Linked DNA regions of Homo sapiens. The protein of the gene in region 1 purifies or fractionates together with the protein of each later gene. This does not show direct contact. Each region holds a gene or a part of one and is shown in the gene's direction. Other genes may lie near its edges.

Region 1 (2,980 bases):
TCCCACATTGGGGATCACATTTCAGCATGAGACTGGGAGGGGACACACATCCAAACCATATCCGCCAGACAATAGTGCTCAATTATGTGCTGGGCAGATGCTCCCTGTGTGCAAGGTGCTTAGTGACATACATAAACCAACGAGCAGATGACACCTTCAGTGAGCTCAGAGCCCAATAAGACAGACCTAACTAACCATGAGATAAAGCAGTACAAAGAACCAGCAGGAGCTTTGGAATTACGTATTTTTACTTTCTTTTGTCTCTAATGTGATCAGTTTCTTAGATGGTTTCCATTAGCAATCTGTCTTTAACAGTAGGGGAACAGCGTAAAGGTTTAATATTCCTTTGAACAGTTTTTTTCCTTCAAAATACACTTAAGATACACGTATATAAGAACTTGCCAAAGATTGTGAAGAGAAACATTTTTTAGAAATAAGATATAAACAAAAAAAGTTAGTGTTTACTTTCCTATGTTGGGGAACAAAGAAAACTCCAGGGTACCTTGCTTCCCATTTCTCTTTAGCACCTTGTGACTTTTGGGGAGGGGCAGATTGATAACAATTATAGTTTTCCTTTCCTGGCTGATCACCATTAACCTGGCAGCAGCACTGGCTAAATCTCCTGTCCTTAGTGCCCTCCAAGGAGCAGGAGCCCTAGACTCTGGGTCGCTGACAGACTCACGCAGTGGTGTTGTTCAAACCTGAAGCAACTTTTTATATCACAGTTCCAACTCAAGGTGAACCTGAGCATCTTCCCAAGTCTCCCACAGCTTCTGTCCTGTGTTGTCCCTTCTCTTGACTCCCAGGTCCAAGCACTTACCCTGTTCTTTCATGATCAGGTACCATGTGTGGAGATAGCTTCCAAGAGAGCTGGGAGGAAGAAAGGACACACCCGGGCAGGATCAGGAACACTGGGGGCCCCTGGAGAAGGGGAGAGTGGGGGAGGGTACAGGTTTTAAATAAAATGTGTTGGGTAATTAGAGAAGTTGCTGGTTGGGGAAAGAGGACTGAAAACAATTCAGGAAGATAAACAGACAATCTCTCCTCTCTCCTCTTTCTCACGTCGTCTCTCTTGTCTTCTAGTCTCGCTACTCATTTCCTTAGTAATCTCATCCACTCTCATAGTTTCATCCATCTCTCCTATGGGGTTTACTCCCAAATCAAGATCACCAGCTTCAGCCTCTTTCTTATGCTCTAAACTCACATTTTCAAGATTAATATTCCCCAAATACAGCTCTGATCATATCACTCTCCCACTCAAAATCCCTCACTGGCTCCTCACGATGATGGGTCACAGAGTAAAGGTGAAGCTTTTTAACCTTGCAGTAAAGGTAATTCAACCTGATCTCAATCTGCCTTTCCAGACATCTCTCCCACTACACCCTGTTAGGCACACTGCTTTTCAGCTACATGATCCTAACAGTGCCCCACACTTTCCTGCCTCTGTTGTTCATTTCACACCCTTCCACTGGCATCCCCTTCCCACAGGTCGAAATTCTACTTAGCCTTTTGGCTCAGCTCAAATGCCACCTCTTACATCAAGCCTCTAAGATTCTCTTGATCAGAAGGAATCTTTCCCTCCTTTGATACCTACAGTATTATGCCTTCTCCCTATTTCTTGACTTTAAACTCTTTAAAGTTAAAAAACATCATATTCATTTTTGTGTACCATCAGTACCTCGCACAATACTCAGTAAATATTTTAATGAATAAATAAACTGAGAGTACTAAGTATTTTTCTTGATTGGTCTTACAGCTGGGGAGAAAACTGGGGAAACAAAGGATATATCCTCATGGCTCGAAATAAGAACAACGCCTGTGGCATTGCCAACCTGGCCAGCTTCCCCAAGATGTGACTCCAGCCAGCCAAATCCATCCTGCTCTTCCATTTCTTCCACGATGGTGCAGTGTAACGATGCACTTTGGAAGGGAGTTGGTGTGCTATTTTTGAAGCAGATGTGGTGATACTGAGATTGTCTGTTCAGTTTCCCCATTTGTTTGTGCTTCAAATGATCCTTCCTACTTTGCTTCTCTCCACCCATGACCTTTTTCACTGTGGCCATCAGGACTTTCCCTGACAGCTGTGTACTCTTAGGCTAAGAGATGTGACTACAGCCTGCCCCTGACTGTGTTGTCCCAGGGCTGATGCTGTACAGGTACAGGCTGGAGATTTTCACATAGGTTAGATTCTCATTCACGGGACTAGTTAGCTTTAAGCACCCTAGAGGACTAGGGTAATCTGACTTCTCACTTCCTAAGTTCCCTTCTATATCCTCAAGGTAGAAATGTCTATGTTTTCTACTCCAATTCATAAATCTATTCATAAGTCTTTGGTACAAGTTTACATGATAAAAAGAAATGTGATTTGTCTTCCCTTCTTTGCACTTTTGAAATAAAGTATTTATCTCCTGTCTACAGTTTAATAAATAGCATCTAGTACACATTCATTTTGTGTTGGATACTGTGTTAGGTGCTGGAGGAAAAAAGATGAATAGAACATCTTCTATGTACTTGATGCGCTCACAGTCTGGTTGTAGAGACTGTCACATAAACATTTCATCCCAATTCATTTATTTGTTCATTCCTTCAGCCAATATATATTGAGTTCTTACTCTGTGCCAAGAACTGTACTACATTTCTGGGATTAAGTGGATATAAGGAGATCTCAGTGTTTAATCTGCCTGAGGGGAGACTAAATTAAGTGACATGGAAACTTGGGTCTTGAAAAACATTTTAAGGTTATTTTTTCTTTTCTCTCTCTCTCGCTCTGTCTTTCTCTCTCTTTCGTCAGGGTCTCCCTCTGTTGCCCAGGCTGGAGTCAGTGGCACTCATAGCTCACTGCAGCCTTGATCTCCTGGGCTCAAGAGTTCTTCCCACCTCAGTCTCCTAAGTAGCTTGGACTACGGTGAACACCACCATGCTTAGCTGATTTTTTAAAAATTATTTTGTGGGAGGCCGAGGTGAGAGGATCGCCTGAGCC
Region 2 (7,427 bases), on another chromosome or scaffold:
TGAATATAAATTTACTGTCAACATTAACCCAGAGGGTTGATAGCCTTTTATGCCATTTATGTGATGCAATTCCTATTTGACAATTATATCATTTTATACTGCTAGCTACTTGACTGTTCCTACCAGAAAAACCTATTTTTTTCCCCTTGACCAAAAACAATATATGCAGTAAATAATCTGGTTGTATGGAAAGATTAATCTTTATGTATGACATCATTTCCCCCTGTGGTTAGGGCACTTCGTTTTTATTCCACTGAAGGGAGTTTAGTCAGAGCTTATATTTTCACTTTCTGTGACTTTTTTCTCCTGTATTTAATTAATTATAGCAAAATTCCACTATAGGAAGAAAGCATAGTAGAATTTATTGACTAAGCTTGACCCAAAGAGTAGTCTAGTGTTATGGCCCCAGAAAAGCACAACTTCTTTTTCTTCAGAAGACTTTTATGTCAGAGTGGATTTTTGAATAGATAATGTTTGTATACATCACAAATTCAAGAGATACAAAACTGCATACCACACTGTCTTCTCCTGTTCCCTTATTCACCTGCTTTCCTTCTCAACTGGTATTACTATTTTCTTAAGTATCTTTCCAGAGTCTATGCATCTACAGATAAACTCATGTAAATATAGTTTTGTTATTTATTTACATAAATGCTATAATGTATCTTTTTTCATTAAAATTGCGTGAGAACTGTTTCTTACCTCTCTATATAAAGTGCTTTCTCATTTTTTTAATGGCCACATTGTATGAACATACCATGATGAGCTAACTTTTGTCCTGTTTGTGGTCAATACTAGTCTTTTGTGATTGATTTGAGCATATTTAAGTGGTTTTGACTGCAATACCGGTTACTAATTTAGGTAGTATAAATTAAATCTCAGTTAACACTCAAATTTAAGGAACTTGAAAGATAATCATTAAATTGAATGATGTGCCATATTGTCATTTTTTTTTAACAGGGAAAAACAATCTAGATTTACCTGTTTTATCCACACAACTTATTTCTTGAAGAAACAAGCGTTGTATGGTCATTTTAACAAATTTACTTTTTAGTCTGATGCTGTATTATGTACTTTGAAAATATCCAGTGCTGCCTTCTTTCACAAATTGAGACTTTTGATGCTTGTCCTATATAGCTGACATTAATTCCATCTGAGTATATTTTCTCAGATATTTTAGCTTTAAGAAGAATTTTTTTTTTTTTTTTTTTTTTTTTTTTGGAGACTAAGTCTCACTCTGTCGCCCAGGCTGGAGTGCAGTGGCGGGACCTCGGCTCACTGCAAGCTCCACCTCCCGGGTTCAAGTGATTCTCCTGCTTCAGCCTCCTAAGTAGCTGAGATTACAGGTGCCTGCCACCACGCCTGGCTAATTTTTGTATTTTTAGTAGAGATGGGCTTTGACCATCTCGGCCAGGCTGGTCTTGAACTCCTGATCTCGTGATCCACCTGCCTCGGCCTCCCAAAGTGCTGGGAATACAAACGTGAGCCACCGTGCCCAGCCTTAAGAAGAATCATTATTCCAGAATATACAATTTGAATCTCCATAATAGAATTAACTCTCATTTTTATTCAGTTAGAAAATCTTTGTCCCCCCCACTGCTAAATTTGACTGGCTTAAAAAAAAGAACTTGGGTTTATTCCTCATACCTGGGGGTATTTTGTATCTGTGAATATTTTATTTCGTGTTTGTATTGACAGCATGCTTTATTTATAACGGTCTCCGTTGGTTTAACTGTTACTCCCTCTGTTGGCTTTCAGAGGTGTTACATTTTTTTGTAATGGTGTCAGAAAAAATATTTATGCTGATTTTCACTTAGCCTCCAACATTAGTATTATAATTGATACAAATATGCTTGTGAAGTAGGCTACACACAAGATTGTTTTATTTATTTTTTATTTATTTTATTTATTTTTTTGAGATGGAGTCTTGCTCTGTCACCCAGGCTGGAACGCAGTGGCGTGATCTTGGCTCACTGCAACCTCCGCCTCCCAGGTTCAAGCAGTTCTTTTGCCTCAGCCTCCCGAGTAGCTGGGACTACAGGCGCTCGCCACCATGCCTGGCCAATTTTTGTATTTTTAGTAGAGACGGGGTTTCACCATGTTGGCCAGACTGGTCTCGAACTTCCAACCTCAGGTGATCCACTTGCCTCCACCTCCTAAAGTGCTGGGATAACAGGTGTGAGCCACCACTCCTGGCCTAGGATTGTTTTAAATTAACAGATGTTTCAGTGGCCATGAATGTTCTGGTTTCCATGAATGTGTTAAGGAAACTTAATCAGAATGCCTGTTTTATCAACAGCTGAGAACAGGGCTATGAAAAACAACAGGCATATAGAATATTTATGTTTGTATTAAGCAAAAAGTGGGCTTGGCATGTTAGATCTGTTTTAAAGGATTTTGCAAATATTTCCTAGTTTTTGTCTGCTATAGATTGAACTATCTAGGTAACTTGATGGAGTGAGATGATGGAGATGCCATATTGCACCTAGCATACCGTATAGAATAATGGTTATGTGTGTCTGTGACCTATGGACATGATAGTTGCTTTCTGTAATGTAACACATACAGGGCAAGGTATTTACTTGTTTTCCATATTTAGCATCCTCTTTAAAAACCACCAGATTTTCAATAGGTTCTTGGAAACTGCGACTTTAAATGGAACAAGATACTGCTGGTCTTTGAATGATGTCCTTTAGTTATAAGGTTAATGAGAAAAATTGGTTTTGTTAAATGTCATTTCACTTAAAGTCTCAGTTTCCAAGAACCTGTTGACAATGTTAAGTAAGGACTTAACTGTATATAGGTCATAAGCTTTTGAGGTTAAATATTATGTCCTGTACCTGTATGGTTAATTGGAGTTGTATCACTCACAGTGGTGGTAGAGTGTTAGGTTCTAAATTTAGCATACAAAGTGTACAATGGGTGTAGAGTATTTTCTCTTAAATCCCTTTATTCATTCATAGAATATACTAGGCTTTCTGGGTTCTGTATTTAGTGACCATTGTGGATAAAACATCTATTTAAACACTAGACTCAAATTCAGCATGATGAGGTATGTGGGAGCTAGGTAGGATTGAGGAAGCATCAAATTCTGGCTTTTCATCTTAATGCTTCACTAGAGCAACTCCTATTGAGGGGACTGCAGACAAGTTGGATGCATAGTATTTGGTTGCTCATTTGCCAAATGCATGTAGTTGGAGTGTGTTTGTGTTTTTGTTTTTTTAAACATAAATGTAGGGGCCAGGCACGGTGGCTTACTCCTGTAATCCCAGCAGTTTGGGAGGCCACAGTGGGTGGATCACTTGAGCTCAGGAGTTCGAGACCAGCCTGGGCAACATGGTGAAATCCTGTCTCTACAAAAAATACAAAAATTAGCCGGGTGTGGTGGTGTGCGCCTGTAGTCCCAGCCATTTGGAAGGCTGAGGCAAGAGAATTGCTTGAGCCAGGGCAACGGAGGTTGCAGTGAACTGAGATTGCACCATTGCACTCCAGCCTGGGTGGCAGAGTAAGACCCTGTCTCAAAAACAAACAAACAAACAAACAAAAACATTTGATGTTTCTCTATTGTAACTCCCCTCCTCCCACCTCCTTTCTTTTTGGATTTGAATGTAAAAGTAGTCATTCCAGGTAATGCATTTCTAGACTAGTTTTAAAGCATTCTTTTTCATTTATATCAAAGTCAATGAATGCATATTAATTATATCAGAGTTTTGAAGATTTCTTTGTAGAACACTTTAAATAAAATTGTAAACTTGAAAATGTTCATTACATGTTGGCCTTTCAAGTTAGAGGATTAATATTATGGCATTTTTAGTAGCTCAGTATGCTTAGATTTTGACCGTATTAAGTCCTTTGAATTTGACTGTTGATCAAACAAGCAGATAATAATATATATATATTTTAAAGGCCTGTGTAATAGTAAGTTTTGCCCCACCCACTTAGAAAGGTAGGCATGTTGTGTTGACTAAATAATCTGGCATTCTGTTTATTGACTTTGTGTGTTTTTGTACAGGTTGCTTTCCTGTTGCATCTTTGATATCATTTCCTAGACTCTACTCCATGATTTAACTTGAAATTCTGAAATGAAGATGGAGGAGGCAGTGGGAAAAGTTGAAGAACTCATTGAGTCCGAAGCCCCACCAAAAGCATCTGAACAAGAGACAGCCAAGGAGGAAGATGGATCTGTAGAACTGGAATCTCAAGTTCAGAAAGATGGTGTAGCGGATTCTACAGTTATTTCTTCAATGCCCTGCTTGTTGATGGAACTGAGAAGGGACTCTTCTGAGTCTCAGTTAGCATCCACAGAGAGTGACAAGCCTACAACTGGCCGAGTTTATGAGAGTGACTCCTCTAATCACTGCATGCTTTCCCCTTCCTCTAGTGGTCACCTGGCTGATTCAGATACGTTGTCTTCCGCAGAAGAGAATGAACCCTCTCAGGCAGAAACGGCGGTAGAAGGAGACCCTTCAGGAGTGTCTGGTGCCACAGTTGGGCGCAAGTCTAGGCGGTCCCGATCTGAAAGTGAAACTTCCACTATGGCTGCCAAGAAAAACCGGCAATCCAGTGATAAACAGAATGGCCGAGTCGCCAAGGTTAAAGGTCATCGGAGCCAAAAGCACAAGGAGAGGATCAGGCTACTGAGGCAGAAACGGGAGGCTGCTGCAAGGAAGAAATATAACCTGCTGCAGGACAGTAGTACCAGTGATAGTGACCTGACTTGTGACTCAAGCACGAGCTCATCAGATGATGATGAAGAGGTTTCAGGGAGCAGCAAGACAATCACTGCAGAGATACCAGGTAGAGGATGTTTTTTAAACTGACTGTAAAGTACCTGATGGCATTTCTCAGCTATCAGGTTCAGTTAGATGAGTGACACTTGAAAAAATCCAGGAGACCTGCAGCTCTGTGTAAATTTGAAGACTGCAGTCTATTAACAAGACATGGCCAATTTATAAAACCTGTTCTGAGGTTTCCAGTGAACTTTAGCACATCAGGAAAAACAAAATTAAAGGGTTAATGATAGGGACAAGATTATTTTTAAGTAATGGAATTTCTCATAAGTCTGTCTGTAACACATTACCTGAACTCCCAATCATTGCCTTTTTGGCACTGCTTAGATTTAATACTCACTGTTCGGCATCATTACTGAGTACATTCTCCTCAGGAATAGGCACCTTGCTTTATTATATAGCCACTGCACTTGAGCTTATAGTGTCTGAAATAACACATTCTATCTTTTGTTAAAGTTTTCTAATAATTTTTCCTCCAAAAACAGTAGTTTTATGTGTTTCCCCCATATTCAATGCATGAGAAGCTAGTTATCCTTGTTACAAATCTTTCTATCCTCACGTTGAAAAGAATGTCTTTCTGAAAAATTTCCCATTAGTTCCCCAAGTTTTAAAAAAGTTTGTTAGAAATCCGCTTGTTCTAGCTCTCATTGGTATAAGGGTCTGTAACTTATTACATATTTGGTAAATCTGCTTTCCCCATTCTTATTGCATCTGGTACTGTGTACTATAATACAAAGGCAGTCTTGAGATTTCATAGTGGAAGAAAGATGTATCTGAATGGTTCTTAAGTAGTGAATTCTTATTATCCAAGAGATCCTTACAATATGATCAGGAACATTTTGTAAACTGTATGGCATTGAATAGGTCATGGCAGTATTGTTTATTGCCACATTGAAGAGGGGCAAGTTTGGGTTTTCTAAAGTTTTATGGGTGACTATGTTTTTTCTCTCCCTGTTTTCTGAAAGCTTTCTGTTTCTACATGTGAAGACAGCATATTGCTGATATACAAAGAACATTTCAAGAGAAATCATATTGGTTAATGGAATCTATAGCTTCCCAAACTTATATAAATTCAGTAACAAGAATGATTGGTTTTAAAGCACTTTATAGGTGTTCAAGTTCTGATAATAAGTCTTGTCCATATAATATAAATATGAGTCTCAAACGATCTTTAGAAATGCTTTTTACTGTTTTAATATCTCTATTGGATTCCTTTGCTATTGTTCCTTGTAATAAAACTACCGGGAGGGGGATTTCAATGAAGCTCATCAGTTAAATGTATGAGAGAAACAGACTTTGGGGTTGTTCTAAGGCAGGTTTTAGGTATATATTTTAGTTTTACATGTATTAATATTTTTAAAAAAACCTTATTAATACCTGTAAAATTGTGCATTCCTATATCCTCTTCTAACCTCTTAATCAAGACCTTGATGGAACTCTTAATACAATACTTACTTCCACTTACTAAGCAGGATTTTATGTAACTACCCCAATACTTTGCCTTTTTGTGGAAAGGAAGAAGGTGGGTAAACAAAATTTAAAGTCAGAACCCTATTGTAAGGTGGCTTGAGAAATGTCTTCATAGGCACTTTCCCTGTTTTGCTTAAATAGGTTAGATGTGCTTTGTTCATATTTTCCTAATCTTCTTTCTAATTGAGTATCTTGACCACTGCTTAAAACTTAAAACACCAGTGTCTGTTTCTTGTCTCTTCTGAATTGTGTACTAACTGAACACCAAAGTAAATTAATTTGAATCTATAGTTTGGTTTCTATTGTTCACACCATTTAGTAACTTTGTGGCTTTTGAAAATACACATAGTTTTCTAAGGTAATCCTGGAGAATCAAATGGTAGATTGAGGTACAGGGTCACTGTATGTGACTGCCTGTGTGTGTGCTGGCAGTTTTGGGAGGTCTTATGGTATACCTGCCATTCCCATAAGACAGGTATGAATGATCTTTACTGGAATTATGCAAAGCAGCAAAAATGGAACAACTTAGAGTTCAAATATTAGGAATTTCATTTCAATTGTCCATATTGTTGTCTCTTGAAAAATTGTGACATTGTGAATTTTTAATGTAACAGTGATGTATCTTTCAGTTTACTGAGTCACCTTATGACTTTGGGGAAGAGAGGAGGCACGTTCAACCTTATAGTAAGAGCAGTTGTCGAAAAGTTGCCTAAATTGTAAAGGTAGGATAAATTATGAACTGACTTGAGTTCAACAACATGGACATTCAGGTGAACTTAAGCTGGATGGGCCTAACAGAATCTCTTGGATGTCGGAATGTTAATTCAGCTGTTTACACAGAATGGAAACCAAGTGGAAAAGTAAAAACCGATTATTGCCATACTCTTTCATTAAGGTACAACCAATTTAGTAATTCAGAAAATGCTCTTTATAAGCTTTTGTTTGGGCTCAGCTTAAAAGTTGAAGGCATTATCCTAAATAATTCCTGTTAGGATATCCTAATACCTTAATCCTAAATGTTATGCCAAATAATTGTAACTGTTAATGCATATTCTTTTAGAGAGTGCAAATAATTAATAATGCAGACCAGTGTAGTGCATGATCATACTTTAATTGAGTTTGATATCTGGGCAACAGATGTTTATGACGATTTTTTAAAGTTAGCAG
Region 3 (7,427 bases), about 84 Mb from region 1:
AGAAAGGATGGTAGAGGGGAGATATGGGTGTTGATAAGTAAGAATCCCCATTGCTCATAGAGGATAAACTTTATAAATAAGTCAGCAGGCCAGGGACGTTGGCTCATGCCTATAATCCCAGTGCTTTGGGAGGCTGAGATGAGCAGATCACTTGGGGTCAAGAGTTCGAGATCAGCCTGTCTAAAATGATGAAACTTCATCTCTACTAAAAATACAAAAATTAGCTGGGCATGGTGGCATGTGCCTGTAGTCCCAGCTGCTTGGGAGGCCGAGGCAGGAGAATTGCTTGAATCCAGGAAGAGGAGGTTGCAGTGAACTGAGATCACACCACTGTACTCCAGCCTGGGTGACAGAGTGAGATTCCGTCACACACACAAAAAAATAAATAAAACAAATAGTATATTATGAATAGTAAGAGATGACTATAACTATCAGATGTTAACACTTTGGAGGTGGAAAAACAGATTTTTATCCTCTTTTTGGTTTTTCATTATGAGTCTAGATTTGTTTTTAATGATGTATATGTATTGTTTTGATAATTTAAAAAATGTGGCCATGCAGACACACATTGTAAAGGTGAAATGGTTTCACAATCTTAGTTATGTCAGTTATGTTTTACATTTAATGAATTTAGCTAAAGAACATGCATGGATTTCTCAGTAGAGAGCTATAGTTAAGGTTGTAAGTTCTGGAGTTAAATGACTTAGATTTAACTACCTTGGGGGGTAGATTAACCTCTAAACCCCAGTCCCTTTTTTTTTGCTTTGTTTTGTTGTGTTGCTTTTTGTTTGTTTGTTTTTCTTATTTATTTAAGACCCTAGTCTCTTGAACTATAAAGTGGGGCTGATAACATGTATCTCGTAGCATTGTTCTGAGGATTGAATGAGATGGTCTGTTCAAAGTGTATCAAAAGTAACCAGCATGTAGTAAGTTCTCAGGAAATGTTATCTTAAAATAACAATAAAATGATTTACCAGAATGAACACACTGAAGCAGTAAGTTCCATAATTAATTTTACATAAGTTATCAGTAACTAAAATTAATTATATCTATTCTTTAAAACATCATGGAAATCATTGATTACAAAATTATTGGATATTCATTATTACATTGAAAAATGAAGCTGGCCAGGTGTGGTGGCTCATGCCTTTAATCTCAGCACTTTGGAAGGCTGAGGTAGGCAGGTTGCTAGAGCTCAGGAGTTCAAGACCAGCCTTGGCAACATGACGAGACCCTGTCTCTACAAAAAATACAAAAATTCACTGGATGTGGCACACCTGTAGTCCCAGCTACTTGGGTGGCTGAGGTGGGAGGATCATTTGAGCCCAGGAGGTTGAGGCTGCAGTGAGCCATGATAGTGCCTGGGGAACAGAGTAAGACCCTGTCTCAGAAAAAAATAGAGAGAGAGAGAGAAATAAAGAAAGAGAAAGGAAAGAGAAAGGAAGGGAGGCAGGGAGGGAAAGAAAATAAAACAAAACAAAACAAAGGAAAGAAAAATGAGAGGCCAGGTGCAGTAGCTTGCTCCTGTGATCCCAGCTACTCAGGAATCTGAGGTGGGAGGATCTCTTGAGCCTAGGAGTTTGAGGCTGAAGTGCACTGTGATTGTGCCACTGCACTCCAGCTTGGATGAGAGAGTGAGACCGTCTCTGATGAAAAGAAAAATGAAGGCTATAGTTTCATAAGAGTATAAACTTGGGGCCAGGCGTGGTGGCTCACGCCTGTAATCCCAGCACTTTGGGAGGCCGAGGAGGGCGGGTCACGAGGTCAGGAGATCAAGACCATCCTGGCTAACACAGTGAAACCCCGTGTCTACTAAAAATACAAAAAATTAGCCGGGCGTGGTGGTGGGCGCCTGTAGTCCCAGCTGCTCAGGAGGCTGAGGCAGGAGAATGGCGTGAACCCAGGAGGCAGAGCTTGCTGTGAGCCGACATCACGCCACTTACACTTTTAGCTTGGATGACAAAGTGAGACTCAAAAAAAAAAAAAGAAGAATATTAACTTGGAGGTAGCACAATCTGGGATTATATCCTGACTCCACTATTTTCTCAGATATATTATGATAAAAATATTATACTTATATAAACTTGGAGAAGCTTTTTTCTTTTTTATTTCAGCTTTATTAAGGTACAGTTTACATAAAAGTGATGACTTTTATGTTTAAAATGTGATGGGTTTTGACAAAAGTATACAGTGTTACAACCATCACCGTGATCGTAATAGAACATTTCCATCATTGGAAGAGCCTCTTAGCCTCTTTGAAACCCAGTTTCTTTGCATGTTACATAGAGATAAAAGCCAGCAACCTCGGGTGGCTGTATACACAGGACCTAATATATACAGTCCCTGGCACATAGAAGACATTGCTAGTGTTCTTATCATACTCATCATTTTTTTTTCTGTTATTTTCTAGCTTCTGAAAGTTCTGCTGAAGACAGTGAGCAGGAAGATGAGAGAGGTGCTCAAGACATGGATAATAATGGCAAAGAGGAATCTAAGATTGATCATTTGACCAACAACAGAAATGATCTTATTTCAAAGGAGGAACAGAACAGTTCATCTTTGCTAGAAGAAAACAAAGTTCATGCAGATTTGGTAATATCCAAACCAGTGTCAAAATCTCCAGAAAGATTAAGGAAAGATATAGAAGTATTATCCGAAGATACTGATTATGAAGAAGATGAAGTCACAAAAAAGAGAAAGGATGTCAAGAAGGACACAACAGATAAATCTTCAAAACCACAAATAAAACGTGGTAAAAGAAGGTATTGCAATACAGAAGAGTGTCTAAAAACTGGATCACCTGGCAAAAAGGAAGAGAAGGCCAAGAACAAAGAATCACTTTGCATGGAAAACAGTAGCAACAGCTCTTCAGATGAAGATGAAGAAGAAACAAAAGCAAAGATGACACCAACTAAGAAATACAATGGTTTGGAGGAAAAAAGAAAATCTCTACGGACAACTGGTTTCTATTCAGGATTTTCAGAAGTGGCAGAAAAAAGGATTAAACTTTTAAATAACTCTGATGAAAGACTTCAAAACAGCAGGGCCAAAGATCGAAAAGATGTCTGGTCAAGTATTCAGGGACAGTGGCCTAAAAAAACGCTGAAAGAGCTTTTTTCAGACTCTGATACTGAGGCTGCAGCTTCCCCACCGCATCCTGCCCCAGAGGAGGGGGTGGCAGAGGAGTCACTGCAGACTGTGGCTGAAGAGGAGAGTTGTTCACCCAGTGTAGAACTAGAAAAACCACCTCCAGTCAATGTCGATAGTAAACCCATTGAAGAAAAAACAGTAGAGGTCAATGACAGAAAAGCAGAATTTCCAAGTAGTGGCAGTAATTCAGTGCTAAATACCCCTCCTACTACACCTGAATCGCCTTCATCAGTCACTGTAACAGAAGGCAGCCGGCAGCAGTCTTCTGTAACAGTATCAGAACCACTGGCTCCAAACCAAGAAGAGGTTCGAAGTATCAAGAGTGAAACTGATAGCACAATTGAGGTGGATAGTGTTGCTGGGGAGCTCCAAGACCTCCAGTCTGAAGGGAATAGCTCGCCAGCAGGTTTTGATGCCAGTGTGAGCTCAAGCAGTAGTAATCAGCCAGAACCAGAACATCCTGAAAAAGGTGAGAAGGAAAATGTGTATGTTGACTTATTTTAGGGTTTCCCCTCTTAAAGTTTCAATGATTTCACAGTATCTCTTGTTATAACCTGAGGCGATTAAGTGTCATATTTGTGTGAACATGGTAAAAATGGAAATTTTAAAGGTAATTTGAAAATGAATAGTGGAATGCATTTAAAAGCTTGAGAAGGCTTTAATGTGCTTTGCTTGAGCCATCCATGGCATTTTATTGTGGACCAGAACACATGCTAGAAATTGCACCCAGGCCCAAATCCAAACCTGTTTGAGAATTCATTATATGCAGTGGTTGACTATATGGCATGAGCAGCTTAAATCTATTTCTGTAACATTGTTTTTGCAATTGTAATGTGCAGTTTCTCACGAACATTTTGATTTATTGACAGACCCCTCCACCCTTAACCAAATACTGTATGTAGGGGTTTGGAGCAACCAACTGTCCAGGCACTGCTTTCCTCAGACAACCGTGTCAAACTGATTTTCAAGCCTGACTAACTTGTGTGAGTTTGTAAAGGAATTTGATGCTTTCTTAGATGCATAGCTTCCAAATTGAAGGACCAATGTGTACGTTAATAACCTACAGTAATACTTTTTTGATTTTCCGTGAAATTGTTAAAAGTGGAAATTCAAATCGGTACCTTCCCAAAGTATTAGTGCCTTTCGATGGTGCCATAGCCATACTTCTGTCATCATTTTTCTTATAAACCACTTCATTCAGGTATCTTTAAATCAGTATACTCTAGGCTGACACCTGGCTTTGGAACACACTTTTCCATCGTAAAGACAGAGCACTGGAGTATGTTTTTTATATACCGTAAAAGATTTTAGAATGCTAGCTTTAGGTTTTCAGCAAAGCTTAAAGAGATATGGTCTAGATCAAATTAGTTAATTCTATGTTTTCTCAGGAATCTTGACTTAAAACATTTCTGTTTTAAAATAAATTAAAAAAATACTTGCAATTAAATTGAAATGTTCTTTGCTTTTTTTCACATTTACAAGTATAACTACTATGATTTTATCTGTGCCATACTATCTCATGCAACTGAACTATCCAGGCATGACTAATCTTCAAAATGAAAGAATCCTTTATTTCAGAATATTAGGCTTTCAACAGTAAGATTTTACTGGCCAGGTGTGGTCACTCACACCTGTAATCCCAGCAATTTGGGAGGTCTGGGAGGTCAAGGCGGTGGATCGCTTGAGTCCAGGAGTTCAAGACCAGCCTGGACAACATGGCAAAACCCCATCTCTACCAAAAATACAAACGTCAGCCAGCTGTGGTGGCGCATGCCTGTAGTCCCAGCTACCTTGGGGGCTGATGAGGGAGAATCACTTGATCCCGGAAAGGCTGCAGTGAGCCAAGATCACGCCACTGCACTCCAGCCTGGGTGATAAAACAAGACCCTGTCTCAAAAAAAAAAAAAAAAAAAAAAGAAAAAACAAGAAAAGAAAGAAAAAAACAGGTTTTATTGTTATAGGTTTTCTTGGGGGTTTTTTTTTTGAGATGGAGTCTCGCTCTGTTGCCCAGGCTGGAGTGCAGTGGTGTGATCTGGGCTCACTGCAACCTCCGTCTCCTGGGTTCAAGTGATTCCCCTGCCTCAGCCTGCTGAGTAGCTGGGACTACAGGCGTGTGCCACCATGCCCAGCTAATTTTTTGTATTTTTAGTAGAGATGGCATTTCGCCATGTTAGCCAGGATGGTCTCTATCTCTTGACCTCATGATCTGCCTGCCTTGGCCTCCCAAAGTGCTAGGATTACAGGCATGAGCCACCGTGCCTAGCCTATTGTTGTAGTTTTTAAGAGGTTGTATCCTTATTATGTTCGTAATATCTTACAAAAGATTAAAATTAACAACAAAAAAAAAGAGGATATCTTCTCTGCTAATAGACTAAGTCAACACTGCCCTTTTGAATCTTAATCTTGACTAGGTTAATAATTGTGGAATTTGAAAGCTACTCCTAAATTTAGGGTAATTTATATCTCTTTAGAAATAATTGGTGTTTTTCTTTTTGTTGGGTTTTTTTTTTTTTTTTTTTTTTTTTTTTGAGACATAGAGTTTTGCTCTTGTTGCCCAGGCTGGAGTGCAGTGGTGCAATCTTGGTTCACTGCAACCTCCACCTCTCAGGTTCAAGAGATTCTCCTGCCTCAGCCTGCTGAGTATCTGGGATTAACGCCCGGCTAATTTTTGTATTTTGTTTAGTAGAGATGGGGTTTCGCCATGTTGGCCAGGCTGGTCTACGAACTCCTGACCTCAGGTAATCCACCTACCTTGGCCTCCCAAAGTGCTGGAATTACAGGCATGAGCCACCGCGCCCAGCCAGAAATAGGTTCTTAAGCACCTGTTTCACATGGCCACATTTTAATAAATTTACTTACTATGAATATTGGAGACTCCCCACTATATCACAAGTTAAAATTTAAGTTTTACTATTTAGATGTAGTTTTTTCCTCTTAATTTACTCTACATTGAAGGTTTTTATTTCTTAGTATCTGAACACTTTAGAATTAAACTCTCTTGGAGAGAAACCTGACAATTATGGTTCTGTGCTTCAGTATGGTCAATATCTACGTCTCCTTTATGTTTCACTTAAATTGTGATATTAAAATGACATTAGGTGGGTCACATACTTGGTGTAAAAAATAAAAAAGAAATATTAAAAATTTAAAAAGGTATTAGGAAAAGTTGTAAGTAAGATTATATGACCCATTAAAAAAAAGCTAGGAAGTTGCAGACAGTTAATTACTTGTCCTGTTTTTGATCAAGGAAGTTAGGTTTTATACACAGAAGGTTGATTTGGTGTCTGACATTGGAACTGAATGGAGATAGTACTTTATTAGTCTCTGGAGAAAAAATCTTACTTTATATAGTCTGAGAGATAACATATATGAATTAGACAGAAATATAGCAGATGTTAAGGACCAAATGAGTAGTATAGAAAAATGCTACAGTTCAGAGTAGTGATTGATCAGTGAAGCCTGGAACATCTTAGTGAAGATGTAGGACTTGGGCTAGTCCTTGAAGAAAAGGGAGACATTTATTTGTAATGTTTTGCAATAATTTCCCACCAAGAAGATGAGACGTTTTTTAGAACTACTATGTTGGATTTGTAAATGGTATGCATGTTAACCAAACAGTGCCCTGGGAGCTTAGTTATTCTTGACATAAATTGGTAAAAAAGAACCAAGTATGAATTACTGCTAAAATTTACCTCATTTATATCATTTAAAAATTATATTAATATGATTATAAGACATAATGTCATTAACATTTTAACCTGTGATTAAGTCTTAATATTTTGGTTTTATTGAATCTTAACAAATTTCAGTTTTTATTTTCAGCATATACTTTTAATTACTAGGCTTATAAACTCCCAGTACTATATTAAGGACTATTTTCAGTTTATATCTGATTTTTTTAAAGAAGGATGTGCATACTTTGTTTGCCTTTTTAAAAACCCTGACTTTTATTATGTATAAGAATTGAGCTTCCATTAATGACAGTTTATTTAAAAATTGTAGTAAGTTCTGTGACAACTTATAAATGTCATAAAGAACATGTAGTTTTGGATTGTTCTATGTTTCTAAAATGTGGAATTAATTTATACTTAGGGAATGTTGGATTTTATTTTGTGTTACTTAATTCCTTTCCCTTCATAGCCTGTACAGGTCAGAAAAGAGTGAAAGATGCTCAGGGAGGAGGAAGTTCATCAAAAAAGCAGAAAAGAAGCCATAAAGCAACAGTGGTAAACAACAAAAAGAAGGGAAAAGGCAGTAAGTGTGAAATCTCTAATTTT

What was found.
Region 2: the proteins of CTSK (region 1) and ARK2N purify together in Homo sapiens (affinity purification with mass spectrometry; 3 studies listed by BioGRID and IntAct, with this or other methods). This does not show direct contact.
Region 3: the proteins of CTSK (region 1) and ARID4B purify together in Homo sapiens (affinity purification with mass spectrometry; 3 studies listed by BioGRID and IntAct, with this or other methods). This does not show direct contact.

Annotation. Positions count from the first base shown.
Region 1 is NC_000001.11:150,795,675-150,798,654, reverse strand, and holds the end of CTSK (cathepsin K preproprotein), read left to right. Parts: intron 1-1,756; coding exon 1,757-1,856; 3' UTR 1,857-2,447; downstream 2,448-2,980. UniProt on the Homo sapiens protein: Thiol protease involved in osteoclastic bone resorption and may participate partially in the disorder of bone remodeling. Displays potent endoprotease activity against fibrinogen at acid pH. May play an important role in extracellular matrix degradation.
Region 2 is NC_000018.10:46,211,799-46,219,225, forward strand, and holds part of ARK2N (protein ARK2N), read left to right. Parts: intron 1-4,012; 5' UTR 4,013-4,082; coding exon 4,083-4,797; intron 4,798-7,427. UniProt on the Homo sapiens protein: AMPK substrate important for exercise capacity and skeletal muscle function.
Region 3 is NC_000001.11:235,177,777-235,185,203, reverse strand, and holds part of ARID4B (AT-rich interactive domain-containing protein 4B), read left to right. Parts: intron 1-2,410; coding exon 2,411-3,619; intron 3,620-4,019; coding exon of another isoform or gene 4,020-4,111; exon of another isoform or gene 4,112-4,133; intron 4,134-7,290; coding exon 7,291-7,404; intron 7,405-7,427. UniProt on the Homo sapiens protein: Acts as a transcriptional repressor. May function in the assembly and/or enzymatic activity of the Sin3A corepressor complex or in mediating interactions between the complex and other regulatory complexes.